4 linked regions of the Homo sapiens genome follow. The protein of the gene in region 1 purifies or fractionates together with the protein of each later gene. This does not show direct contact. Each region holds a gene or a part of one and is shown on either strand. Other genes may lie near its edges. The genes, in order: LZTFL1, BBS4, CEP250 and BBS7.

Region 1 (8,031 bases):
TTTTTTTAGAGACGGAGTCTCGCTCTTTCACCCAGGCTGGAGTGCAGTGGCGCAATCTCGGCTCACTGCAAGTTCCGCCTCCTGGGTTCATGCCATTCTCCTGCCTCAGGCTCCCGAGTAGCTGGGACCACAGGCGCCCACCACCACGCCTGACTCATTACTTGTATTTTTAGTAGAGACGGGGTTTCACCGTGTCAGCCAGGATGGTCTCGATCTCCTGACCTCGTGATCCACCTGCCTCGGCCTCCCAAAGTGCTGGGATTACAGAGGTGAGCCACCACGCCCGGCCCAGATTCTTAATAATTATTCACTGTCTATAGTATTACATTTACACTCTTTGCTCTCCCAAAACCTCCCAAACTCTCTTACCCTGTTTCCCAGGATTCTACTAAATGAACACTCTACTTTAGCCACACTAGTCTGCTCATCAGTCCTGAAACATGACTTAAAATTTCCTGCCTTGACTTTCACTCATGTTACTCTGATCCTAAAGTATCTCTCCATTCCTATTTGAGAATCTGAATCCTACCCAGTGGTATGATGGTAAATATTTAACAGCAGGTTTTCTAGGTAGGGGGGCCTGATTTGTAGCACTGCTGATTTCCATGGCATAAATACTTCCATCATGGCTGATTTCAAGCCACCAATATAATGTCACTGAATGAAGAGGTAAGAAGAAATGCATACAATTGGATCTCACCAGCCAGTACACACATGCTCCACCACATCACTGAATTCCTACCCACCCTTCATGGCCTAACCTGTTTCACCTACTCTGTGCCATCTCCCAATATGCCCTCAGTAACTCTATAGGTATGCCTTCCTCCAAAACCTAGCATATATAATCTCTGCTACTTCTTTGGTACCGTCACAGGCTGATTACTACCTCGTATTATTGATTATCTTTTTTTTCAGGTCTTGCTCTTCCAAGTAGATTGTAAACTCTATGAGGGCATGAACCATTTCTTATAATGCACAACACCTAGCATAGTGCCTTGTGCCAGCAGGTGGCCAATTCCTATCTGTTCATTCCTTTCCCTCCTTTCAAGGAAAGTTAAGACTGTCCCAGGACCAAGAAGGAAAAATTACTCAAACTGAGAAGGGTAAATGACAGAAAAGTTCCTTTAAAATGGATTGGAATGAAGAAAGGGGGTAAAAGTGGACAGCTGAGTTCAAAAGGAAAAATAGCATCAGCCTAGGAAACGGCTATTCACAAACCTTTACTTCCACACATATACTATATGTATCTATGTCAAATCATTAGAGAGGAAATGGAATAGGTAGATATGTGGTATAATAGACAAAGCACTGGATTAGAAACCAGGTTTAGGTCTAGCTATGCAACTATCTACCTTGGTAACAGTCTGTTACCAAGTCACTTAACCCCAATGACATTAGTTTTACTATCTGCTAAATGAGAGGTAGATATGATGATCAGTCCTAAAATGGTTAGAAACAATGGGAGGTATCCAAGTGGGGAAGTCAGAATTTGTTTGAATTTTATTGTAGAAATATTCCGTTAAAATAATAATAAAAAGAGCTGAAAACATACAGCAAGAAATCCTGCCAGAGCATTGCCAAGCTAGTGTCTTGAAATTGTACCACAAATTGTGTATGTGTGTTTAGGGGGAAGGGGATAGAAGAGAAATGGGTAAGGTACCAGAAAGGGTTCCCTGTTCTTAACCATGCCCACAAATCCATATACAATTTAAGATAAGTACAAGGAGGAAACTGTAATGATAAAAATGAGCACAGTTTAATAATACCTATCAGATACTGAATGCTTAATATTTTCACAGGTACTGCACTGTTTACACGCATTATCTTACTTATCATATTAACAGTCTTGTGTAGTTATTATCTGCAATTTACTAATGAAGAACCTGAGCCTGATTCCAAAGCCTCAGTTGTTAACTGATGGAAAGGAATGACAGAAGATAGAACAGGAAGAGATACCAATTTTTTTGTGATTTGTTTTCAACGTGTTCTCCTGATATTTTAGGGAAATCAAGAGAATGAGTGGAGAGGCTCTAAACTCAAGAAGGGGAGGGAGCAATCTGTTTAGCTCACAGGTGTCTTCTCAGCTCCCAGACAGCGCTTGGAACACAGTGTGGACTAAATAGAAATTCTGGTTGCTGAAGTATTTCAGTAGCTATTTCAGGTGGTGCTCTCAACCCTGGTTTCATCCGTTTTCCTGAACATTTCAGTGCTGTGCACTGTTCTAAGTATGACTGGTATTTAAGATGGCATGCTATATTCGCTGGAGGGATTAATGATATTTTTTGAGCAAGCCAAAACAAAGGAAATGTCACCCAAATTCCTCAGCTGTAATACGGGGTGCTGGGATTCTTAAAGTCACCTCCACATCAGAAAGTTGGATTTCAATCACACAGAAAGCTGGATTCGTTCTCCCTGCTCCTCTGGTTACCGCGCGCGCGCGTGTGTCTGTGTAAACCTTAGAGCTTCCTGAAACTGAGTGAGAACCCTGCGTATGTGTTAATGTGTGTGTGTGCGTAAACTTGGAGCTTCTTGAAATAGAGTTAAGAACCCTGCCGTGCACCTTAGGCCGGCAGCAGTTTCCTCTATCTCTCCTCACCTGCCACCTAAGAGTTGTGCCTTGGCTCCAGCCCCCGCAGGCAGGAGAGAAACGAAGCGATGCGGCGGAGCTGGGCTGCTGGGAAAAGGCTTCACCCAGGATTACCCCAGAAGGGCTTGGGCTGCGGTTAACCGAATCTCTCGCGCCCGGCGCAGCTCCCCTTCTCAGGGAGGCTGAGGTGCGGCCAGACCCAACGAGGCCACGTAATCATTCCGGGCCCACCCGCTCAGTGTCTCCAGCCCCGGCCGCGCTCTCTCCTGTGCGCGGTGCGGCGCCTGAGGGTCGGTTACTCACCATGGCGGCAGGCAGCGGCGGCAGCCTAAAGGAACGGGAGAGGCCAGGCGGTGCCCCGCCAAGCCTGGGATCGCCGAGGGTAGTTGGACCACAGAAAATGGGGAAGGAGGGTAGGTTGTTTAGAAGCCTCTGGTTGCTAACGGAAACCGAGGCACGTGGACTGCAATTATGCATTTTCATTGGTCCTCAGGATCACGCGACAGGAAGTATTGCGTAACCGGTTGACTGCCACATGCGCATTGGCTTCCAGGGCCGGAAGTCCCACCTTTTTGTGCCAGTTCACTTTTGGGAGCTGACTGCAGTTGCAGAAGGTAGCGGGAGGGTTGGGCTGCCTGGAGTTGCGTGTGGCCACCAACGCGCTTCGCGCCTCGTGGCGTCCGCTTATGGATTGTTGGGAAGTTCTTGTCCAGAACTTCCTGTGGCATAGGTGACCCCAAGGATGAATGGACATCCCAGACCTTTCAATGGTCTCATAGGGCGCGGCCCAGACATTTTTTTTTTTCAGGAGTTCCTACCTGAGCATCAGGGTGGCTGAGACAGGCCAACAACACCAATGCCAGCAGGTTCTCAAATAGAGCTTCAAACGACCCCTCCCCATGACTCCGCCCATTATTATTACTGTGTTGTTATTATCTTCTCTTATATTTCCAGCTAAAAGTCTCTAGCAACATTTTTCCATTTAAAAAAAATGCAAAAAGCATGGGTTTTCTCCGAGAGCAGTGAATTTCAAAAGGTTCCATATGCCTGGAACTACTATGGAAGCTTGTTGAACAAATTCCTGGGCCTTATCTCCAGAAATTCTGATTCACAAGTCTAGCTTGGGTCCTTGGGATCTGCACTTTTTAACCGATGTTCCAGGAGTGATCACAGATCAGGACCACTCTTAGAAACACTGGCTTGGAAGGACAAGTGTAGGATGAGATCGATTATTGCAAATACCAGGGACTCAGAGTCCTTCACTCACATGATACAGAGGTGATGTGCAGGCATTTGCCCACAGAAGGATCTCAAGCCTTGGGTCAAGAACAGTAAACAAGGTTCTCCTGTGTGTCACCTGGAGCATTCCAATGCACGGAATGATGGCCTGAAGGCAGTGGCGTGGGTATGCCCAACTTCAGCTTTGGCTAGGCTCCCTACCCTTGGCACTGCAATGGCATTTGGGCAGGATCCCTGTCTTCTTGAAAGATTCCTAAGGGCAGATTCTCTCAACCCTGAATATTAACCCCTTCCAAGCTCAGTTAAACTTCCCCTTTACCATCCCACCTCCCCATTTCTGTTTAGTGAGTGTTGTTGAATTTGGTTGCCATTATTTAGTGCCTACTATGAGCTATTAATAGACACATTCCATTCCAGTAGTTAATCCTCATAATACGTGGTTCTTTCCTCTGTAGACATTCGTTGTGTTCACATAGTGAGAGGGTCACTTTACAAGGTGTTGTGGGTGCGAGATGAAGTTCATAAAAACTTTTATGACTGATCAGTAAACAAAGTTGGTCATCAGCTTGCACTGCTGAAAAGCTCGTTTATTTTCTCCCAGGCCAAATCTTGTGATTGCGAAGTGTTATCAATTCAAGGGAATGAAAGGAGCGTGTGTATAATGCAAATATTACATTTGTGGCTTGGGGATTTTAAAATTTGTTCTGCAAAACTCCATCAGCTAGTTATTGTAATTTAAAATTCTGCTTTAATCTAAAATCTTCTATACCAAGGAGGTTAATCACCATTAGCCAATCTACCCAACAGAGTTGAGTGTTGTTACATAAGCTGTCTAAATAGTGTCAGCAAATCTGAACATGAATTTTAGTCTCAAAAGTGATGAATTTGGCTCATGAAAAGGCTGAACTTGTACTTCAGGTTGTTTACTAGTGCGGGTTGGTCACCAAAGCAAACAATTCGAGCCGTGAGGGAGAACAGCTCCATCCTACTTTACTAGTGATCTTCTTAGGCTCTGTTTTTATTTATTTTAATTGCTGTGACAGTTTTTTAAAATGTGTGTATGTGTGAGTGTATGTGTGTGTGTAAATTTGGAGGGAGGCACACAAGTCCATTTTTTACCTTTTAGCAGAGTTCAACATAAATAAAATGAAGATAAATTCTTTTTATATTATTATGAAATGAGACTTATGACTTTATAAGTTCCCAGTCATCATACTAAGACCACCAGTTTCAGGGTGTTTGCAACCTAGACTTGGCAAAAGGAGGAATGGAAAGCTGATCATGGCCTCCTCAGGGATGCCAACAGATTCACTCATTCTGCCACTATTTACAGAACCCCTGTTGTGTGCAAGGTTCTGTGGCCATGATAGTGAGTCTGAGGAAAAAATCTGAGGGGAAAATCTGAGGGAAGAAGTGGAGGGACTCAGAAAGCCCCAGCTGCCCCTGCACTATAAATTTTGGGGGGATGCAGGGGGACTAAGGTGAGGCTTTACTTAAGTAGAAAGAGGAAATGAAGAAAATGATTAAGTAAAAAAAAAATAGGTGATACACAGAAAATGTAAAAATCTGAAAGGTTATATGGGAAAGAGAAAAGTTTGATAAATATTGAACTGGTAGTAGGTGGAAAATAGGGGAAATTATTTTAGGACATTATTCTTAAGAAGACAGGATCTTTGCAGCATGGCTTCTTGCATGAAGTTCTACCATACAAGTTCTCTTCAACTTCCCCATCTTGCCCCACCTTGGCTGCTGAGAAAGTAGCCAAGACCTTATAGAAGAGAAGGGCCCAGATTACAGGGCTCTTTACAGGAGATATGCATTTGAGTAGGCCTGAAGTAGGCAAGAGGCTATTTTCAGTTGCTTTCAAAACACCCTAGTGACCAGCAGGGTATTGGAGAGTGCTGACAAACTAGATTAGTGAAATCACTATCACATGCATTAAAGCAGGTCAAGCAAGGAAGTGGTTCACCATAAAATACAACTCCCTCTAAGAATGTGTGGATGTTGGCAATTACTTAGCCCAAATGATAGATTAGTTTCACTGATAATCTCAATGCATTAACAACACCCCAAAGGGAACAAACACCGAAACCATCAAAATGAGAAGTCTACCTCAAAAAATTTTAAGAATTGGTTGTGGGGAATACCTTCTTGTAAAGTACAAGAAAAATTGATTGTAAAGATGATGATACGCACCAGCTCCTCTTTCCATACTCCCTTATGCATATACATTTCAGTTAAACCCACAAGCTCAGTCTGTATATTCAGCAGCTGTTAATGGAAATCTGGATACTCGCAAGACACAATGGGGAAGGGAATAATGAACAAGATGGGATTGGTCTCTTTCAAAAATGGCCTTATAATCAAGTGAAGGGAGAATTCAAGCTTGCAGAATAATTTCAAAGTAGACAGTAAGTAGTAGGGTAGTTCAGAGAGGGTGCGAGATAGTTCACTTCTGTTGAGGCTGGAGAGGAGAGATTCAGAAAAGTCTTCCAGAAGGCAGTGGAATTTGGGCTAGGTTTTAACAGGAGTGTGGAAAAGTTGGGGATGAGTGTGATGATTGTGAAATTGAGAGTTGTCTTGGACAGGGAACCAGAATTTTCATCAGGTGCTGCAGTAGAAGTGTCCAGAGATGTACATTTATTATTATTACAAGTGGCAAACTACAAAAAGAGATATACTGACAGCTTATACAAGGATGGAGCACCTTTAAGAGTGTCTTATTCAGAAATGTGGGTCTTCCTAGATCTGTGGTCTTCACTAAATGTTTCCATGGACTTCTGGCAATGTAAGGGTGTTCACCAATTGCATTTCATCATAGAAAATGTAAACAAAAAATTAAATTTGCTCAGAAAGTTTTGCCTACAAAGCTGGGGCTGTGTAGTCCTATTGGAAGAGCTGAATAGCTGTGTCATGAATAGCTGTGTTCATGACTGGAAGTTTTCTCAATGGGATGGATAAATAAAATATGAAAAATAAAGTGAACTCAAACGGAAATGTCATTTTTAGCCAGCTTATATGAGTTTGTCTTCCCAACTACTATGTTGCAAGCTCCTTGAAGGAAGAAATATTTATTATATAATAACATAGTATGGCTGGGCTATAAGAAGCTCTGAGCTATGCTTGCAGAATTAAATTGGAGATAAACAGGAACATCTCAACAAACATTTGTGAGTTCCTACTGGGTTCCAGATACTGTGTTTGTGGGTTGCTTTTGGCCCTGGACATGCCCTCTCTTGGAAAGCATATCATAAGGCAGCAGACATATTCAGCTATCCCTGTTTCCCATGTTAAATGTAACTTTGAGGTGATTTATATAACTTTTAGGAGTTTTTGAGAATGAATTATTTAGTTCTCATGACTTAACCCTTATGTTTTTATATAACTACTGTTTGAGTTCTACTTTGACTTAATGCTACACTTTGAAGACATTCCATAAAACAATTACTAATTTATATTTTGTGGTTTCTTTTAATATTTTGAGCCCAAGCATTTACAGTTGCTCCTTGAACAACACAAGGGATAATGGTGCTGACCCCATGCACAGTCAAAAATCCACATATAACTTTTGACTCCCCCAAAACTGAACTACTAATAGACTGCTGTTGACTGGAAGCCTTACCAATAACATAAATAGTTCATGAGCATACATTATGCATTATATGTATTATATACTATATTATTTCCATAAAGTAAGCTAGAGAAAAGAAAATACTAGAAAATCATAAGGAAGAGAAAATATATTTACTATTCATTAAGTGGAAGTGGATAATATAAAAGTCTTCATTTTGAATAGGTTGAGGAGGAGGAGGAAGAGGAGAGGTTGGTCTTGCTGTCTCGGGTGGCAGAGGAGAAAGAGTTGGAGGAGGTGGAAGGGGAGTCAGGAGAGAAAGGCACACTCGGTGTAACTTTATGGAAATGCATAATTTCTGTCTGACTTTTTCTTTTTTGTTTATCTAAAAATGTTTCTACGTGGTACCAGTCCTTCTTCCGCCATTTGCATGTTTCAGTGCCTGCATAATAGAAGGGTCCATGTCATAAAAGAAGTCAAAATCAGTCTTGAATAATTGAAACCATTCTTCCAGATTGTCTAATGTCAATGTGTTTTCTGGCACTACTTCTACATCTTTCTCATTATTTGGCACTGGTTCGGAAGCACTTATCTCCATCAACTTGTGTTCAGCTAATTCCTCTGGTGTGGTGTC
Region 2 (7,031 bases), on another chromosome or scaffold:
ATGAAAGAGTCAATTGAATGTCACACAGATGGGGACGGGAAAAAGACATGAAACACAACTAGATGCCTATTGCTGATACTGTGGAATTCCAATGACGAAAAAAATACCCAAAGCTTCTAGGGGTCATCAACAAGAATCAGACTGGTAAGAGACTGCTCGTCAGCAAACTGCTAGAAAATCATGCAGCAATGCCTGCAAAGTTATGAGGAAACATGGTTTTTGATCCTATACTTATACAAATCATGAATTAAGTATGAGGTTAAAATCAAGACATTTTTGGAATGTAAGAATTCAGAAATAAGACAGCCAGATGATAAATGGAACCATTAGCAAGTTTACTAATAAGAAAGAACTGAAAGTTCTCTACTTACCCAATCTTTCTGGTTGAGTTTAGCTGCTTCATTATATACTTCAATGGCAGCTTTATGTTTTCCCAAAAGAAATCTGTAAAAGATATATTTTCCATAATTATTACCTCAAAATTCTTAGAAGACTAACCCTACTAGTCCCACATTTTAATCATATTTCATCCAGCAGAGAATTCTAGAAGCCTTTTCTCTATGAGGTGGTTGTGCTGGTTTGGTCAGTGAAGCTGCTATACACTAACAGCAGAAGCTCTCTTAGTAGGGATTGCACTGGCAGCTGTTCCAAGGCCTTGGTCTCATTCTATACCAATTTTAGTGAGAGTCTTGTGGAATTTTTCTTCTACAATGTACTATAAATGCAGACCAAAAAAGAAATAAGCCTAATGATATACCATGTTAAGCAGTAACTACCATCATTTATCATCACCCATTAGGGACACATCCTTTCCTTCCAAGACTAAGTCTCTTTCCTTGATATTGGATCCTGAGTTTAGAGAGAAACAGGGAAAACCAAGCTCTATGCAAAAACAACACAGGTATGAATGGCAATGTGGCTAAGAAAGGGGAGATAGGAACTCCATGGAACAAAGGACTGAAAAGGGAGTACCTAGTAGTTTATAAACACTTGAGATTCTTTCCATCTAGGAATCTTTAGGACATTCACTCAACAAATAGAGATGCTCCTCAACTTATGATGGGGTTACATCCCAGTAAACCCATTGTAAATTGAAAACACTGTAATTCAAAAATGCATGTAATACATCTACTCTACCAGACATCATAGATAGCCTAGCCTATCTTAAGCATGCTCAGAACACTTACTCTGTTCCATGGAGTTCCTATCTCCACTTTCTTAACTACATTTGCTGACAGTTAGGCAAAACCATCTAACACAATGCCAACTTTATAATAAAATGCTGAATATCTCATGTAATTTACTGAATACTATACTGAAAATGAAAAACGGAATGGCTGTATGGATACTTGAAGTACAGTTTCTACTGAATACATAACAATTTTACATCATTGTAAAGTTGAAAAATTATGTAAGTTGAACCATCAGAAGTCAGGAACTCTCTGTCCTTACTAAAAACTTACTGTGTGACAAATACTAAGTGTTAGAAGAGTAGATGAGAAAAATTCCAAGGATTGCCAATAAGTTTAGAAGACTTAGGGTACAAGGTGTCTCTATTTACATGATAAACAATATTGGTCCCCCATCAAACTAGAATGCACAGTGTTTAAAATGCTTAGTTCCTTAACACTAGTTATCTCATTTTCTCAAATTTCAAACTTAATCCATGCTCTTCAGAGTGAATCCCACTGTACCTATTAAACCATTCCCCCACTTGTGTATCAGGCTGATGCAGCTGCCAGCAGCAGGCTGGACCTAGGAATGCATTTTACACTGTTCTCTGTGAGTGCCCTAGGGCCTCCAGGTTGCCAATACTCACAAAGATCTGGCCACCTGCTTGAGGTTATCAGCACTCTGAGGACTAAGAACTGCACATGTCTGGAAGAGTTCTAGGGATTCTTGGATATTTCCTTCTAGGCGAAATATCAATGCTGCCAAGAAACAGAAAATACAAAAAAAAGTAAAACCATGTTCTGGGAAGAATGGAGCCTGGGGTCAGAAAAATTGGAGAAGAGAAAACTGGGAAACCACATCAAGTAAATCCTTTGGACAACTGTATCCTTAAAACAATCAGATATGGCTTTGGACAGGCTGAAACAACAACCAAAACTGCTGACAAGCTCAACTGTCTTTTAGCAAGGTAGCTCAAACCTACCTACTTCTCTCTCTACTCCCAGGATCCATCACATAGATAATCAGTTCCTTTGCAAATTATCACACAAACTCTTCACATTAACAACATTTTGGGGCTTCCCCATCAGATGCTTCATTTATCATAATTTACTTCCAACTGATAGTTTTCAGAGCGAACCCCCAAATGGGGCAAATGGAATCAATACCTCAAATTCAACATGGAGATTCTGGCAAAGGATAAAGTAACATTTAAGACTTCAGTTGTCAGTGTAACAACCAATTAGAACCAGAGGTTTTTCCTAGGCCTATGTTTCCAGAAGAATTTATCAGGCACTGAAAGTCTGATACTTGTGACACTGGGAATAAGAGCATTTTTTGCCATGATGTCCTAAATTTGTCAATATCTTAACAATTATGTCAGAAAATTATATGTTAATCTGAAGACTACAAATGCAATGAATGGTAAACAAAACCATTTATTTACACCCAAGAGTCAAAAAGAAAGTTCCTGGAAAAACTAAGAATGCTACTTATGCCACTAAAGAGGAAAATTTAAGTCAGTGGGCCAGGTGCAGTGGTTCATGCCTGTAATCCCAGCACTTTGGTAGGCCAAGGCAGGTGGATCACCTGAGGTCAGGAGTTCGAGACCAGCCTGGCCAATATGGCAAAACCTTGTCTCTACTAAAAATACAAAAACTAGCTGGACATGGTGGCATGTGCCTGTAATCCCAGCTAATAGGGGGGCTGAGGCAGGAGGATCGCTTGAACCTGGAAGGCAGAGGTTGCAGTGAGCTGGGATCGCACCACTGCACTCCAGCCTGGGCAACAGAGCAAGACTCTGTCTCAAAAAAAAAAAAAAAAAAAAAAAGTAAGTGAGTGGTCCTTATCTTTGGTTTCTAATGAGCTGAATTTATGCTCTGCTTTATCTTGTTTATTTCCAGGCTTCTTCCCCTCATCCTGATTCACCTTACAGAAATCCTCAAGCTCTTCTTCATCTCTTTTAGCTTGATTACAAGCAATCCTTCCAAAAGCATCTTTTGGCCCTGAAATCACTGCATTAGGCAGGAATCCTAAGCATCCATTCCAAAAAACACTAGCCAGAAACTAAAAAATGGGTAATCATAGCAATTTTTTAACATTACTAGTCATTTCTGAAGTCAAATCCAACACAGTAATTATATTCAGATTCCATAAAAAGATTAATACTGAATAAAACCTTTCTGGAACATTTAAACTCATGCACCTGTAATGACATTTTGGTCGACAGCTGTATAAATGATGATGATCACTTAAGATTATAATGAAGAGGAAAAATTCCTATTGCCCAGTGACGTCATAGCAATCAAAACAGTGCAATGCATTACTTACCTATCTGTAGTGATGCTGGTATAAACAAACCTACTGTGCTGCCAGTCACATAGAAGTACAGCATATACAATTACATATATATAGAACTTAATACTTGATAATAAATGACTACATTACTGGTTTATGTATTTACTACGCTATACATTTTAATCTTTATTTTAGAGTGTACTCCTTCCACTTACTAAAAAAAAGAATAACTGCCTCAGGCAGATCCTTCAGGAGGTATTCCAGAAGGTATTCCTATTGTTATAGGAGATGACAGCTCCATGTATGTTATTGCCACTGAAGACCTTCCATAAGGAGGTGGAAGACAGTGATATTTATAATCTTGACTCAGTGTAGGCCTAGACCAGTGCGTGCGTGCGTGTGCGTGTGTGTGTGTGTGTGTGTGTGTGTGTGTGTGTGTCACAAAGACCTTAGATGGGTCACAAAGCTCTGAATGCCAAAAAAGACAGCAAGGACACATTCCACATGTTAGTACCACCACTGTAGTAGTGTGTGTATCGTAGTTTTTAACAAAAAAGTTTAAAAGTAAAAAAATAAAAAGTTTTAAGAATAGCATAAAGGGCCAGGTGTCGTAGCTCATGCCTATAATCCCAGCACTTTGAGAGGCTGAGGCAGGAGAACTGCTTGAGCCCAGGAGTTCAAGACCAGCCTGGGCAACAAAGTGAGACTCTGTCTCTCTACCAAAAAAAAAAAAGAAAGAAAAAGAAAAAAGCTTATAGAATAAGGACCTAAAGAAACTATTTTTGTACAAATGTACAATGTTGTTGTGTGTTTTAAGTATTACCCCAAAAGAGCCAAAAAGTTTTAAAGTTTATAAAGTAAAAAGTTATAGTAAGCTAAAGTTAATTTATCATTGTAGAAAAAATATTTTTAAATAAATTTAGTGTAGGCTAAGTGTACAGTGTTTATAAAGTCTACATTAGTATACAACATAAAGTCTACATTAGTATACAATAATGTCCTAGACCTTCACATTCACTCACCACTAACTCACCCAGAGCAACTTCCAGTCCATCCATGGTAAGTACTCTATACAGGTATACTATTTTTTATCTTTTATACCATATTTTTACAGTACCTTTTCTATGTTTAGATACACTTACCACTGTTTTACAACTGCCTACAGTATTCGGTATAACACCTGCTCATACAGGTTTGTAGCCTGGGAGCAACAGACTATATCATGTGTATAGTACACTATATCATCCATCTATGTTTGTGTAAGTACACTCCATGTAATGTTCACACAATGACAAAATTGCCTAACAACACATTTCTTAGAACATATCTCCATTGTTAAGTGGTGCATGACTGTACTTGAACTTGTTTCTTCAATTGCCTGATCTTTTTCAAGAACCTAGGAAAAGTGTATTTCTCTAGCAAGAAGACAAGAAGTATGTGTCTTACCTTGGACATAGATAGCATATTCACACAATCCCTGAGTCTCTTGAAGCTGTTCTTTGATAACAGCCTGAAAGAGGGAGAAAAATGCTTCTGAGCAGTGGTTAAGTTTCTTCAGGTGTCTTTAAGAAAAAGTGGACATGGACAGGCCAGGTGCGGTGGCTCATGCTTGTAATCCCAAAACTTTGGGAGACCAAGGCAGGCAGATTATGAGGTCAGGAGTTCAAGATCAGCCTAACCAATATGGTGAAACCCCATCTCTACTAAAAATACAAAAATTAGCCGGGCAGTAGTGGTGCGTGTCTGTAATCCCAGCTACTCAGGAGGCTGAGGAAGGAGAATCGCTTGAACCCAGGAGGCGGAGGTTGCAGTGAGCCAAGATAGCGCCACTGCACTCCAGCCTGGGCAACAGAGTGAGACTCTGTCTGAAAAAAAAAAGAAAACAAATAGTAATGAAAAAGCAGACGTGGACAAGAATCATATGTAAAAAAACCTAGAGTATTAATAATGCCTAGTAAAGTATTAGTTCATTCAGTTTCTTAAAATTTCAACTCCCTTGTTGTGATTACTTCTTCTAGAACAGGGATTTGCAAACTACAGGGCTTACAGGCCCTGTATATTTTTGTACAGCTCTCAAGCTAACAGTGGTTTTTTTATTTCTAAAGGGTTATAAAAAATAAGATAACAAATATGATGTAGAGACTGTATGTGGCCTACAAACCCTAAAATATTGTTGGCCCATTACAGAAAAAGTTTGCCAACCCCTGTCTAAAATCTAACTAGGCAAGCTAAGAAAAGTGTGATAAGATTTCCAAGTATTATCACAGATGAAAAAGAAAGAGAACCTTTCAAGATTCATACTGGTGGCCAGGCGCGGTGGCTCACGCATGTAATCCCAGCACTTTGGGTGGCCGAAGCGGGCAGATCACCTGAGGTCGGGAGTTTGAGACCAGCCTGACCAACATGGAAAAACCCCATCTCTACTAAAAACACAAAAAATTAGCCAGGCGTGGTGGCACATGCCTGTAATCCCAGCTACTCAGGAGGCTGAGGCAGGACAATCGCTTGAACCCAGGAGGCGGAGGTTGTGGTGAGCCGAGGTCACGCCATTGCACTCCACCCTTGGCGACAAGAGCAAAACTCCATCTCAAAAAAAAAAAGATTCATACTGGTATCTGCCTTCGGATCAGCGGTGTCAAAAAAAACTGGTATGGGCCGGGTGCGGTGGCTCACGCCTGTAATCCCAGCACTTTGGGAGGCTGAGGCAGGTGGATTACGAGGTCAGCAGTTTGAGACCAGCCTGACCAACATGGTGAAACTCCACCTCTACTAGAAATACAAAAAAAAAAAAAAAAATTAGCTGGGCATGGTGGCGGGCACCTGTAATCCCAGCGACTTGGGAGGCTGAGGCAGGAGAATTGCTTGAAACTGGAAAGCGGGGGTTGCAGTGAGCCGAGATTGCGCCACTGCACTCTAGCCTGGGCAATAAGAGCAAAACTCCACTTAAAAAAAGAAAAAAAAAAACTGGTATGAATCTTTGTCATACCAGTATGAATTAGTTCTGTGCATTGCCATAGGTATAAATGCCATGGGTATAAATTAAAAACCTTAGATGGGTCACAAAGCTCTGGATACCAAAAAAGATGACACCAAGGATACATTCTGCATGTTAGTACTACCACTGTCTGCCTGCAAGTTTGTAACACATATGGTATGTCACCAAAGATACAGAGAAAGGGAAATACAAATGGTTTTTAAATATACACATGATGATCAACCTTGCAGTAAGAGAGAAATTAAAAAATAAAACTCAGGGCTGGGCACGGTGGCTCACGCCTGTAATCCCAGCACTTTGGGAGGCCAAGGCGGGCAGATCACAAGGTCAGGAGTTCGAGACCAGCCTGGCCAATATGGTGAAACCCCATCTCTACTAAAAATACAAAAAATTAGCTGGGCATGGTGACACTCATCTGTAGTCCCATCTACTGGGGAGGCTGAGGCAGAAGAATTGCTTGAACCTGGGAGACAAAGGCTGCAATGAGCCAAGATCATGCCACTGCACTCCAGCCTAGGTGACAGTGAGACTCCATCTCAAAAAAAAAAAAAAAAAAAAAAAAACTCGA
Region 3 (5,214 bases), on another chromosome or scaffold:
TTTGCTGCTCTGCTTCCCACATGGGACTGCCAGCACCCTGAAGGCAGAAAAACTGAATGTACCCGTTAAAGGAGGAGAAGCTGGTGGTGTATGTTGAGATAAGGAGGGTGGGGAGTGTACAGTTACAGGCTGCACAGGGAGGGCAAGATCAATGTTGACACCAAAGTGCCAAAGGCTGTCTGCGCCAGGTCTGGGGCCCCCACTGGTCATACCGCCTGATAAAACCATTGCAGTCCACACTAGGTCTGGAGGCTTCGACACCCACAGCATGTGGGTGTTCTCATGCAGGCCATGAGTATTCGGGGTGCTTTAAGTGCAGGGGAGTTCTGTTGTCCACGTTATTCTTAAAGCCCAGAATAGGCCCTGTTTTATTCTACAGAGATAGGAAGGCACTGGGGCTCACAGAGTGGTGCTGCTTCCCACCCTCACCCTTCTGCCCCCACCTGAGCACAGTGTGGTGCTCAGTGATGGTTATCCTATATTCCAAATACGCATGGCCCAGGACTGGCAGAGTCGGAGCTCGGGGTCTAGCTGTGACCTGGGGATCGGTTGGAGTAGCTTCTTGACCAGCCGGAATTGGGTTAGGTGTCCTAGCATTGGTGCCTATGGAGAAGAACACAGACTGTTTATCACTCACCCCTGGTTCCAGTACCAAGGAAAGGCTGGAGCCATTGCAACTGGAGGCCCAGCGGAGGAAGGGATCAAGAAGAGGATGCAGCCCAGAGCCCAGGACCGAGCATCCACCGGCCTCTGGAGATGGCGTGGTCTCCAGTTGCATCGGGGCTTCAGGGCCCATCTGAAGTGCTGATCAAACCAGGCAGACACACCATGCTGGTGAAGGCAGGCTTTGTAGATGCGGGGCTGAATTGAGCAGCCACAGAACCTCTGCAGCTCTGGGGCCAGTGGCAGAACTTCTAGAAGTACCTGTGGGGTGGGAAACCCCAGCCACAAAAGCAGTGAGCTGACTTCCAGGCCTGAGGCTTTGCCTGCAGGCCTCATCTCAGCCCATGGGACAGATTCCTGGTTTTTTTAGTTTGGCCTTGGGGTAGATGATACCTTCAGCTGTCCACCCTGCAATACCTCACCTCCTGCCTTCTGACCCAGTACTCTGCAGAGCGGGGGAATGGGGCCAGGGGACAGGGGCAGGGAAGAGGAAGAAGCAAGAGCTGCCAGTGTGCTCCAAACCAAGAGAGCCCTCCACATGATTCTGGGCACAGCTGAGGAGGAGTGCAAGCTCAACTCTGCTCACCACACTTAAGAAGCAGGCAAGGGAGGATGAAGGGCAAAAACATGGGGTCCTGAGGCCCTTTTACTCCCTCTACCCTGCTGGAGGTGAGGATGAGAGGTGAGACTTCGTTGGACTGTGCTCCTGGCCAGTTGATCTCACCCAACTCATTACATCAGTAGCCTGGTCACAGGGTGGACACTCTGACCTCTTCTTAGCCTTTCATTGGCAATACTACCAGCTCTATATATGCCCTTATAGGGCCTGAACCTTGGCTCAGGTGGATGGGCTTGGAGGTAAAATAATTGAATGGGTCAGGGGTAGGAGGAGAGATGAGTCTCTGCCAAGGCTGTGTGATGTGTCATCTGAGAGAGTGGGTAACCCCTATTCCCAGCACATGGCCATTTATTTAGAGCCAGGGAGGGGGACGAGAATTCATATTCAAATGTGATTCTTTCTTAATTACTACCAGTTGTTCAGGTGAGGGAATCAGGGAAGGCCAGATTAATAATCCACACATTGCCCTTGCACCTCCTGTCTTGGTTTCCTATCAAAACCTCTCCCGTATCTATGAACATTCCAGCCCTGCAGGTCAGATTGCTGGCCAGGAGTAGTCTCACATTCTAGCTGACTGATGGCCTCGGCTTCTGCTGTTGTATGTGGTTTGATGATTCATGCTGGAGCCTTTGGCTATAACTCTCTTCCCTGTATAAGGGCCATCTGAAGTTTGTCTGCCTGACTCCATTACCTGGTGAATGAGATTGGCTAGCTGCTGCTCCTGCCCCAGCTATTCAGTCATTTGGCAAATACTCATTTAAACAAAGCTCCACAGGGATCTCTGAGAAGGAGCTCACCTCTAGGCACACAGAACCTGGACACAGATGAAAGTTTGCAGAATGACCCAGTTGTGCAGAAGAGACCCACTGGCTGCTCTCAGTGAGGCCAGGGAGAGTCAAACAGAGCATCTTGGACAAAGAGAGGGCTTGAAGGCCCTTTCAAAGTGTCAAGCCAGTTGGATGCACGGGTTGTGTGGAGTCCAGGGGTACATCCAGAAGCAATGGCAGGTGTTATCCATTCATTCAGGTTAGACCTCTGAGCAGACGGCAGAAACGTCAGCCACAGGTGAGCATAAGCTCAAACCCCCCCATTGAAGGCTACATTCTTGTCCCACAGGGCAGAGCACATGGCAAGTGGCATGCTGACTCAGACACCGGGCACTGAGAAAAGTGGGAAGCCATGGTCACAGACTCTACATTCCCCTCTCCTGTTGGCCTCCATCCCTTCCTCAACCGTCCGCAGAACACCTCCTTCCAGCACCTTAGCTCCTGCCTCCCTCTGGACCTATTCAGTCCTCAAGGGTGCCCTGCTAAAGGCTGGGCTGAAAGCTAAGAGGAGAGGTGGCATTCAATGTGTCCTGTGTCCTCCCTGGGGTTGATTAAGGGGTCGATGCCCAATAGAGTCCTTCATCTTGGTGTTCAGCCCAGGGTCCAGCTGCCAAGGGAAGGCTTGGCAATCAAGGGTGATGGAGATAAGAATGAAAAGGGGCACCACCCTGTGCCAAAGCTGGCATGTTGTATATCTGAGAGAGGAGCTGCCTATTCACAGTGTAGGGTTGTCAAGCTGGAGGCAGGGAGAGAAAAGCAAGAGCTTTTTGGTTCCTCTTGAGGATAGAATCTATAGGAAAATGTAAGAGGGTTAAAAATAAATTTCCCATGCATCCAAACTTTTTTCTTTGGTAGACTTTCTTGTCATCTATTTAAAATGAAACAAGTGCATGTACGTGGTTAAGACATTTTAGCTAGGAATGATGGTGCGTGCCTGTAGTCCCAGCTACTTGGGAGGCTGAGGCAGGAGGATCGCTTGAACCTGGAAGGTCAAGGCTGCAGTGAGCCGAGATCATACCACTGCACTCCAGCCTGAGTGATAAAAGTGAGACCCTGTCTCAAAAAAAAAAAAAAAATTAAAGAAGTTAAACAGTGCCGGGCTTGGGGGCTCACGCCTGTAATCCCAGCACTTTGGGAGGCCCAGGCAGGCAGATTGCTTGGGCTCAGGAATTCAAGACCATCCTAAGCGAAAAAATATAAAAATTAGCTCAGTGTGATGATGTGCCTGTAGTCCCAGCTACTCGGGAGGCTGAGGTGGGAGGATCACCTGAGCCCAGGGAGGTCAAGGTTGCAGTGAACCATGATCATGTCACTGCACTCACTCCAGCCTGGGCAACAGAGCAAGACTGTCTCAAAAAAAAAAAAAAAGGAAATTAAATAAAAAGAAGATAGCAGTTTCCCACCTCATTCTTCTCAAACTCCTCTTCAGAGGCAGCGGGTTTTGTTTTTTTTTTAACTATGTTTTTCTACTGGCTCACTTTATTCCTCTAAAATAGTAACTTGTCTATGTGGTGCCATAACGGGTCCAGTATCTGGACACGAGGCCGCACTACCTACACCTTTGGGGATTCTCGGATCCTGACTCTGAGCTACCTCATTCCTAGACACCTGGTGCACCACAATGTGTCAGGGATGTCGGTTTATGTGGGATATTTGCATTTTGTTAGGTTGTGTGTGGTAGTTGAGCAGCCAAGGGGGTAGCATGCGGTGGATATTTGTTTTAGATACACAGTAACTGGAAACTCATTTACTGAGGCTATTTGGTTACCCTGAACTACTGTTTCTACCAAAAAGGCAGGATAAATGCTCCCTCAACACACACCTTTAATTACCAATTTTCAGAGTAAGGGGTTGAGGTAATAGCCACCGCCAGTTTTCCCTTTCTCTTTGAGTATCATTATGAGCTCAAAGTTTTTTATATATTCACTATGATTCAATCATGACAGTTGCTATTTTTGATGCTCAAATTGCCGCAAATCTAATGTCCAAGTGTTCTTGTACTTGTCTAGGCCTAGAATCTTTTAGTGAAGAAAAAGTATTTAGAAGACAAAAATCAGGCTGAGTGCAGTGGCTCACGCCTGTAATCCTAGCACTTGTGGGAGGCTGAGGCAGGCGGATTGCCTGAGCTCAGGAGTTGGAGACCAGCCTGGGCAACATGGTGAAACCCCGTCTCTACTAAAATACAAAAAATTAGCCGGGGGTGGCGGTGTGCACCTTGTAGTCCCAGCTACTCAGGAGGCTGAGGCAGGAGAATTGCTTGAACCCAGGAGGCAGAGGTTGCAGTGAGCTGAGATCGCGTCACTGCACTCCAGCCTGGGTGGCAGAGCAAGACTCCGTCTCAAAAAAAAAAAAAATACGAAAAACAAAAAACATAATCTGGATTGCAGGGCTGATCGTTGCTAATGGAGTGTTATGGCTGTTCAGATGACAGAGGGAGAAAATGTACTTTGTAAACTGTTAGTTCAATGAGGTTATGATTGCACAACAATGTGAACATACTTAATGCCACTGAACTTTATTGCCATTGATAACTTTTAAATGGTAAATTTTGTGTATTATTTTGTCACAATAAAAAGTTTGAAAATCGAGTTCATAATATTTCCAGTTTGGGCCGACCACGGTGGCTCATGCCTGTAATCGCAGCACTTTGGGAGGCTGAGGTGGGTGGATCACAAGGTCAGGAGTTCGAGACCAGCCTGACCAACATGGTGAATCCCTGTCTGTACTAAAAATACAAAAATTAGCCGGGCGTGGTGGTGCGCGCCTGTAATCTCAGCTACTCAGGAGGTTGAAACAGGAGAATCACTTGAACTCGGGAGGCGGAGGTTGCAGTGAGCCGAGATCGCGCCACTGCACTCCAGCCTGGGCGACAGAGTGACACTGTCTCAAAAAAAAAAAAAAAAAAAAAAAAAATTCCAGATTGAATTTAATGTCACAGAGTTTTTAGCCTGTCCACCTGCCCAATTTTGTATTGTTTCTTTTTTTTTTTTTTTTTTTTGAGATGAAGTCTCACTTTGTCACCTAGGCTGGAGTACAATAGTGCGATCTTAGCTCACTGCAACCTCTGCCTCCCAGACTCAAGTGATTCTCCTACTTCAGCCTCCC
Region 4 (7,031 bases), on another chromosome or scaffold:
ATATATAAACATTTTAGCAAGATGAATCAACAATTACACATAGTACTAGAAGTCCTAGCCAGAGCAATTATACAAGAAAAAGAAATAAAGTGCATCCAGATTGGAAAGGAGAGTCAAATTATCTCTGTTTGCCGATGACATGATCCTATATATAGAAAAACCTAAAGACTCTACCAAAAAACTCTTAGAACTGACAAATGAATTCAGTAAAGTTGCAGGATACAAAATTAATATACTGAAATTAGTAGTGTTTCTATACACAACAAACTAGCTGAAAAAGAAATCAAGAACACAATCCCAATTATAATAGATAAAAGATAAAATACTTAGGAATAAATTAACCAAGGAAATGAAAGACCTCTATAAAAAAAACTATAAAACACTGATGAAAGAAATTAAAGAGGATACCAACAAATGGAAAAACATCCCATGTTCATGGATTGGAAGAATTAATTTTGTTAAAATAACAATACAACCCAAAGCAATCTACAGATTCAATGCAATCTCTATCGAAATACCAATGTCATTTTTCACAGGAAGAGAAAAAAAATCTTAAAATTTGTATGGAACCACAAAGACCCCAAATAGCCAAAACAATCCTGAGTAAAAGGAACAAAGCTGGGGCATTACACTACCAGATCTCAAAATATACTACAAAGCTGTAGTAACCAAAACAGCATAATACTGGCATAAAAACACAGAGACACAGAGAACATAAAATGGAATAGAGAACTCAGAAATTAATCCACATATCTACAACCAACTGATTTTTGACAAAAGAGCCAAGAACAGCCCCTGGGGAAAGGACAGCCTCTTCAATAAATGGTGCTGGGAAAACTGAATATTCATATGCAGAAGGATGAAACCAAGACCCCCACCTCTCACCCCATATAAAAATGAACACAAAATGGATCAGAGACCTAAATGTGGCCAGGTGTGGTGGCTCACACTTGTAATCCCTGCAGTTTGGGAGGCCAAGGCGAGTGGATCACTTGAGGTCAGGAGTTCAAGACCAGCCTGGCCAACATGGTGAAACCCTATCTCTACTAGAAATACAAAAAAATTAGCTTGTCATTGTGGCAGGCACCTGTAATCCCAGCTACTCAGGAGAGGAAGACTCCATCTCAAAAAAACAAAACAAAACAAAACAAAAAACAAAAAAAGACCTAAATGTTAATGCTTTAGGACATTGGTCTGGGAAAATAGTTAATGAATAAGACCTCAAAAACACAAACAACAAAAGCAAAAATAAACAAGTGGGATCATATCAAACCAAAAAGCTTCTACACAGGAAAGGAAACAATCAACAAGAGTGAAAAGACAATCTATAGAATGGGATTTAAAATATTTGCAAACTACTCATCCAACAAGGAATTAATATCCAGAATATACAAGGAACTCAAACATACCAATAGCAAACAAACAAGCAATCTGATTAAAAAGTGGGCAAATGATCTAAACATTTCTCAGAAGAATACATACAAATGACCAAAAAAACATGAAAAAATACTTAACATCATTAATCATCAGGAAAATGGCAAATCAAACCACAATGAAGTATCATCTTACCCCAGTTAGAATGGCTGTTATCAAAAAGACAAGAAAACAAAAAACCAAAAAACAACAAATACTGGCAAGAATGTGGAGAAAGGAAACTCTTCTGTGCCATTGGTGGGATAGTACATCCACTATAGTGAACAGTATGTAGGATTTTTCAAAAACTACAAATAGGGCGACCATATGATTTAGCAACCCCACTGCTGGGAATTTACCCAAAGGAAAGGAAATCATCATATCAAAGAGACAACTGCAGCCTCATGTTTTATTGCAGCACTGTTCACAATAGCCAAGATATGGAATCAGCCTGGGTGTTTAACAACAGATGAATGTATAAAAAAAAGTGGTATATATACACAATGGAATACTATTCAGCAATAAAAAATAATGAAATCCTGGCCAGGCATGGTGACTCACGCCTGTAATCCCAGCACTTTGGGAGGCTGAGGCGGGCGGATCACCTGAGGTCAGCAGTTGGAGACCAGCCTGGCCAACATGGTGAAACCCCATCTGTACTAAAAATACAAAAATTAGCCAGGCACGATGGCAGGCATCTGTAATTCCAGCTACTTGGGGGGCTGACATGGGAGAATCGCTTGAACCCAGGAGGCAGAGGTTGCAGTGAGCTGAGATGGCACCTTTGCACTCCAGCCTGGCCGACAAGGGCAAAACTCTGTCTCAAAAAAAAAAAAAAGAGAGAGAAGAATGAAATCCTATCATTTGCAGTAACATGGATGGAACTGGAGGACATTATGTTTAGTGAAATAAGCCAGGAACAGAAAGTTGAACACCACATGTTCTCATTAATATGTGGAAGCTAAAAAAAGTTGGTCACGTTAAAGTAAAAAGTAGGACAGAGAATACTAGAGGCTGCAAAGGGTAGAGGGAAGGGAGGGATAGGGAGATATTTATTAAAGGATATAAAATTATAGCTAGATAGGAAGAAAAAACTCAAGTAGTCTATACCACTATAGGATGACTATAGTTAACAATATATAGTTTCAAATAGCTAAAAAGAAGGTATTGACTGATCCTAACCCAGAGAAATGATCAGTATTTTAGATGATGGATATGCTAATTATCCCAGTGTGATCAGTATATGTTATATGTATTGAAACATTGCTATGTACCCCACGAATATGTACAATTGTTGTCAATTAAAAAATAAATGAATAAAATAAAAAAGATAAACCAACAGATTTCTGATTGTCATTTACTGTATTAAGTCTACTAGATTAGCACTTCTCAAAATTTTTGGTCTCAGCACCCCTTTACACAATTAAATGATTGAGGATCCCAAAGAACATTTGTTTATGTAAGTTGTATGTATCAATACTTACTATATTAAAATGAAAACTAAGAAATGCTTAAACTATTTTATTTTAAAAAAATTATTACATGTTTACATAACATGTCTTTATGAAAAATAACTATTTTTCAAAACAAAGAATTTAGTGAGTATAGTGTCATTATGTTATACTTTTTGCAACTTGTTTAATGTCCTGGCATAAGCATACACACATAGATTTTCATATTTGTTTACTGCATTCAATCTGCTGTGCTATGTTGTTTTGGCTGAAATATTTGAAGAAAATCCAGCTTACACAGATACATAGCTGGAAATAAGGAGGGGTATTTAAATAGCTTTTTCAGATGATTGTGACTCTCTGTTTGATACTATGCCTAAACTTGATAAGTAGTAGTTTCTTAAATCAGAGCTCCCAGAGTTTTTTAGCACCAGGAACCAGTTTCGTGGAAGACAGTTTTTCCACCAATGGGGCTGGGATTGTTTTGGGATGAAACTGTGTTCTACCTCAGATCATCAGGCATTAGTTAGATTCTCATAAGGAGCATACAACCATGCGCAGTTCACAATAGGGTTTGTGCTTCTATGAGAATCTAATGACGCTGCTGATCTGACGGGAGGCGGAGCTCAGTCTGTAAATGATCACTTTCCCGCTGCTCACCTCCTGCTGTGTGGCCTGGTACCCAGCAGGCCACGTACTGGAACTGGTCTAAGGTTGTTTGATATCTACTTTTGAGGAAGAAGTGTTAAAATGTCCCTCTATATTTATTTCAAAACAATTCATTGTCTACATGTTGGTAATTGTTGAAACTAGGTGATAGGCACATGATAATTCATTATAATATTTTGTGTACATTTTCATACATTAAAATTTTTCTTTTAAAAAAGGTGTTTAAAATTATTAAATATGTCAGTCACAACTTTATTTGATAATCTGTTTTAAAAGTTAATCTTAAAATGTTCTTATGCTCCAGTTATGAAAAAAAAATTACTTTGTAGGCATTTCTGTCCATAACTGTTGTCTGGCAGTATACCTTCGTAACAACCTGCATGTGGACTCCCAGAACCTACAATAAAAGTTGAAAAAAAGCAAAACAAAATATATTGTGTTGTCCTATTAACATTATAGGAACAAAATCTATGGCCAATTACTTTTCTAATGACTCTCCATATCCTTCTCTTTTGGCTCTTGTTCTTTTGAGGATTATTTTTTGTGGGGGTGTCTTTCCTAGATTTTCTGATCTCTATTAAGTCAGTATTTATAAATTAAGAATCTTGCTTTCCCTGTATATAATTATTAGGTCATAATATTAATAATAGTAATTTTAGATTATCTTCCATCTATTACAGGTGGTTATTGGAGATCATGATGGGGTAGTTATGTGCTTTGGCATGAAGAAAGGAGAAGCAGCAGTAAGTATAGCTTTGTGAAGGGGAAAAATGGTTTTCTAAAAGAGAATGCACTATTTATTGAATAATACTAGGTTAAAAATTTCCTAAAATACAGGTAATGGAAAATGGGTTCTGAGGTAAGTAGTTATGTGAGATATGAGTCTGCGGGTAGCACAAAAGTAATTTGCTAGCTAGTTGTAAGGCACCTTTGGCATCCTGTGGTCGTGGGTTACTTTTCTATGCTGTGTAATATATTACCCCAAATTTAGGGCCTTAACACAACACACATTTATTATCTAACAGTTTCTGTAGCACAGGAGTTTGTGCTCAAGGTTTCACACAGCTGCAATTTAGATGTCAGCTGAGCTGTGTTCCTTTCTAGAGTGTGGGGTCTTATTCCAAGCTCATGTGGTTGTTTGCAGAATTCAGTTCCTTGCTATTATAGGACTGAGGTCCCCACTTTATTAACATCTGTAAACCAGGGGCTGCTCTCAATTCCTTGAGGTCTCTGCAATTTCTTGCTCTGTGGTTCTCTTACAGTCCTTCTCACAACATGGTAATCTAATTCATCAAAGCCAGCAGGAAATTTCTGTAGTCTGCTAAGAAAGAATCTTATGTAGCATAATGTAATCATGGAAGCAACTAACCCACAACCTTTTCCACTTAATTTAACCTAATCAAGGAAGTTATTACTATTACATTATCATATTTACAGATCATAATTAGAAACTTAGAATGATGAGTCTGAGATGTGAATTCTAGTATTCATTATATATTATATGGAATTTCCAGAAAGATGAAGAGAATAAAAACTACCAGAAACTCAGTGTTTCCATTATTCATATTCTCCCAGATATCTTATTCTCTGTATATAAAGTCATGGGGAGGAAGTGGAGGAGAAGAAGCTGGTGCAAATAATAAAATGGAAAATAACCACAAAAAAATTAATGAAATGAATATTGTTTTCAGTTAAATAGATATATGATTATAGGTATTAAGTCATACATTCACATTTTCAGTAAATTCTATAGTCCTTTAACTATTAAAATTTATAAAAATTGTAAAGAAGCCAGGAAAGATTAGTTTTAAAAGATGATTGAAGTGTAAAAACATGTTCATTGGACCTCATTAAAGAATTTGCCAAATGGACTTCCCTGTTCGTAGGAGTATTGTTAATCCAATGCCTCTAAAACTTCAGTAGGCATAGGAACCAGCTGGGGAATCTTGTTAAAATACAGATTCTCATTCAGTTGATCTGCTGCATTTTAAATAAATTTAGTGATGCTAACATTGCTGCTTAGTGAACTGTACTTTGAATTACAAGGATTTAGATTTCAATGACATCATTCAAATATGTGTGGGAATATATATTTAAAAGTTAAGTATAGCAAAAAACCTGAAGACCTGCTGAAGTATATAGATTATTATCTAAAATTATTTCTATATAGTGGAACTATAATATTTTGCAAATTTAACATCATAACATTTTCTATTGTAAAGGAAAAAATGCTCACAATAAAGTAATTTGTGTACTTTTTTCCTGAATGATTTTTTTCAGGCAGTGTTCAAGACTTTACCCGGGCCGAAGATTGCAAGGCTGGAACTGGGAGGGGTTATCAACACACCTCAGGAGAAAATTTTTATTGCTGCAGCATCTGAGATTAGAGGCTTCACAAAAAGAGGAAAACAGTTCCTCTCCTTTGAAACAAACCTCACTGAAAGCATTAAAGCTATGTATGTCTTTTGTTCTCTTTTGTATTTTTACATACTTATTTATAATATTTTGGATAGATGTGAGGCAACTAAGTATCATATCTTAATAGGCTTTCTGGAAAATAAAATTAACTAAAGGTATTTTATTAGTCAGAAACTAAATTTGACCTACAATCAATATTAAATTGGTTGTTGAAATTTTTTTAAAGAACTTTATAGTATTTATACAATCATTTTTGACAACTTGGTTCAGTTTGATTCATGATCAAGGTATCAAAAAAATTGAAAATAAATCTAGATATTTAGCTTTATGTTCCTTGGCTATTTTTGATAGTTCTGGTTTTCAGGTAGCATCATTATGTTAAAAGGCTGGCTGTCAAAGTTAGTGATTACCAATAGGGTATAATTTCAGGTATATCAGGTAAGACTCTAAGTGAAATATAGCTCCCTAAATGGCTGCCTGATATGTGAGATTTTGCAATTCAGATTTGAGTTTTTGAATCACAGGGAGCTGAAAAGGGCTTTAAAATTCATCTAATTCATTATTTCTTATATTTGCTACTTAGAAGAATCCCTTGGGCCACTTAAACAATTCCTTGTCCTACCTCATACCTGCCGAATCAAAATAACCAGGAGTAGGTTTTATTTTTATTTTTTAAGTTCTTCCTTTGAATCTAGTGCAGCCAAGTTATATAATCAGCCAGACTCTTAGGCTAGAAACAACTGATTCAGCCCAAAGTTTTGTATAATGCACAGCACATCTCCTGATGTTTGGGATGTAAAACATTGGCTTGGTGAAATTAGATTAAAATTAAACCATGATAAGTGGAAATATGTAATTTCAAATGGTTTAACAAGAATAGTAACACTTTTGAAATACACTTGTATATAGACATGGCCAATGATAATTATGGAATACTGAAAGTAATGTGTTAATAGCATAACTCTACATTCGGACAGTTATATGGATAGTAGTGTGAGAAAGATAGAGAGTTTCTCAGTAACAGTCTCTTCAAGTGGTTTCTTAAATGTTTTTACTAGAGTGGCAAAGATGGGATAGAAA

Evidence for each region.
Region 2: the proteins of LZTFL1 (region 1) and BBS4 purify together in Homo sapiens (affinity purification with mass spectrometry; 3 studies listed by BioGRID and IntAct, with this or other methods). This does not show direct contact.
Region 3: the proteins of LZTFL1 (region 1) and CEP250 purify together in Homo sapiens (affinity purification with mass spectrometry; 3 studies listed by BioGRID and IntAct, with this or other methods). This does not show direct contact.
Region 4: the proteins of LZTFL1 (region 1) and BBS7 purify together in Homo sapiens (affinity purification with mass spectrometry; 5 studies listed by BioGRID and IntAct, with this or other methods). This does not show direct contact.

Annotation. Positions count from the first base shown.
Region 1 is NC_000003.12:45,839,099-45,847,129, forward strand, and holds the start of LZTFL1 (leucine zipper transcription factor-like protein 1), read right to left. Parts: upstream 2,894-8,031; coding exon 2,891-2,893; exon of another isoform or gene 2,597-2,890; intron 1-2,596. UniProt on the Homo sapiens protein: Regulates ciliary localization of the BBSome complex. Together with the BBSome complex, controls SMO ciliary trafficking and contributes to the sonic hedgehog (SHH) pathway regulation. May play a role in neurite outgrowth. May have tumor suppressor function.
Region 2 is NC_000015.10:72,710,191-72,717,221, reverse strand, and holds part of BBS4 (BBSome complex member BBS4), read right to left. Parts: intron 4,979-7,031; coding exon 4,915-4,978; intron 1,932-4,914; coding exon 1,820-1,931; intron 445-1,819; coding exon 372-444; intron 1-371.
Region 3 is NC_000020.11:35,514,584-35,519,797, forward strand, and holds the end of CEP250 (centrosome-associated protein CEP250), read left to right. Parts: 3' UTR 1-2,398; coding exon of another isoform or gene 2,399-2,446; 3' UTR 2,447-4,697; downstream 4,698-5,214. UniProt on the Homo sapiens protein: Plays an important role in centrosome cohesion during interphase. Recruits CCDC102B to the proximal ends of centrioles. Maintains centrosome cohesion by forming intercentriolar linkages.
Region 4 is NC_000004.12:121,860,462-121,867,492, reverse strand, and holds part of BBS7 (BBSome complex member BBS7), read left to right. Parts: intron 1-4,213; coding exon 4,214-4,276; intron 4,277-5,813; coding exon 5,814-5,989; intron 5,990-7,031.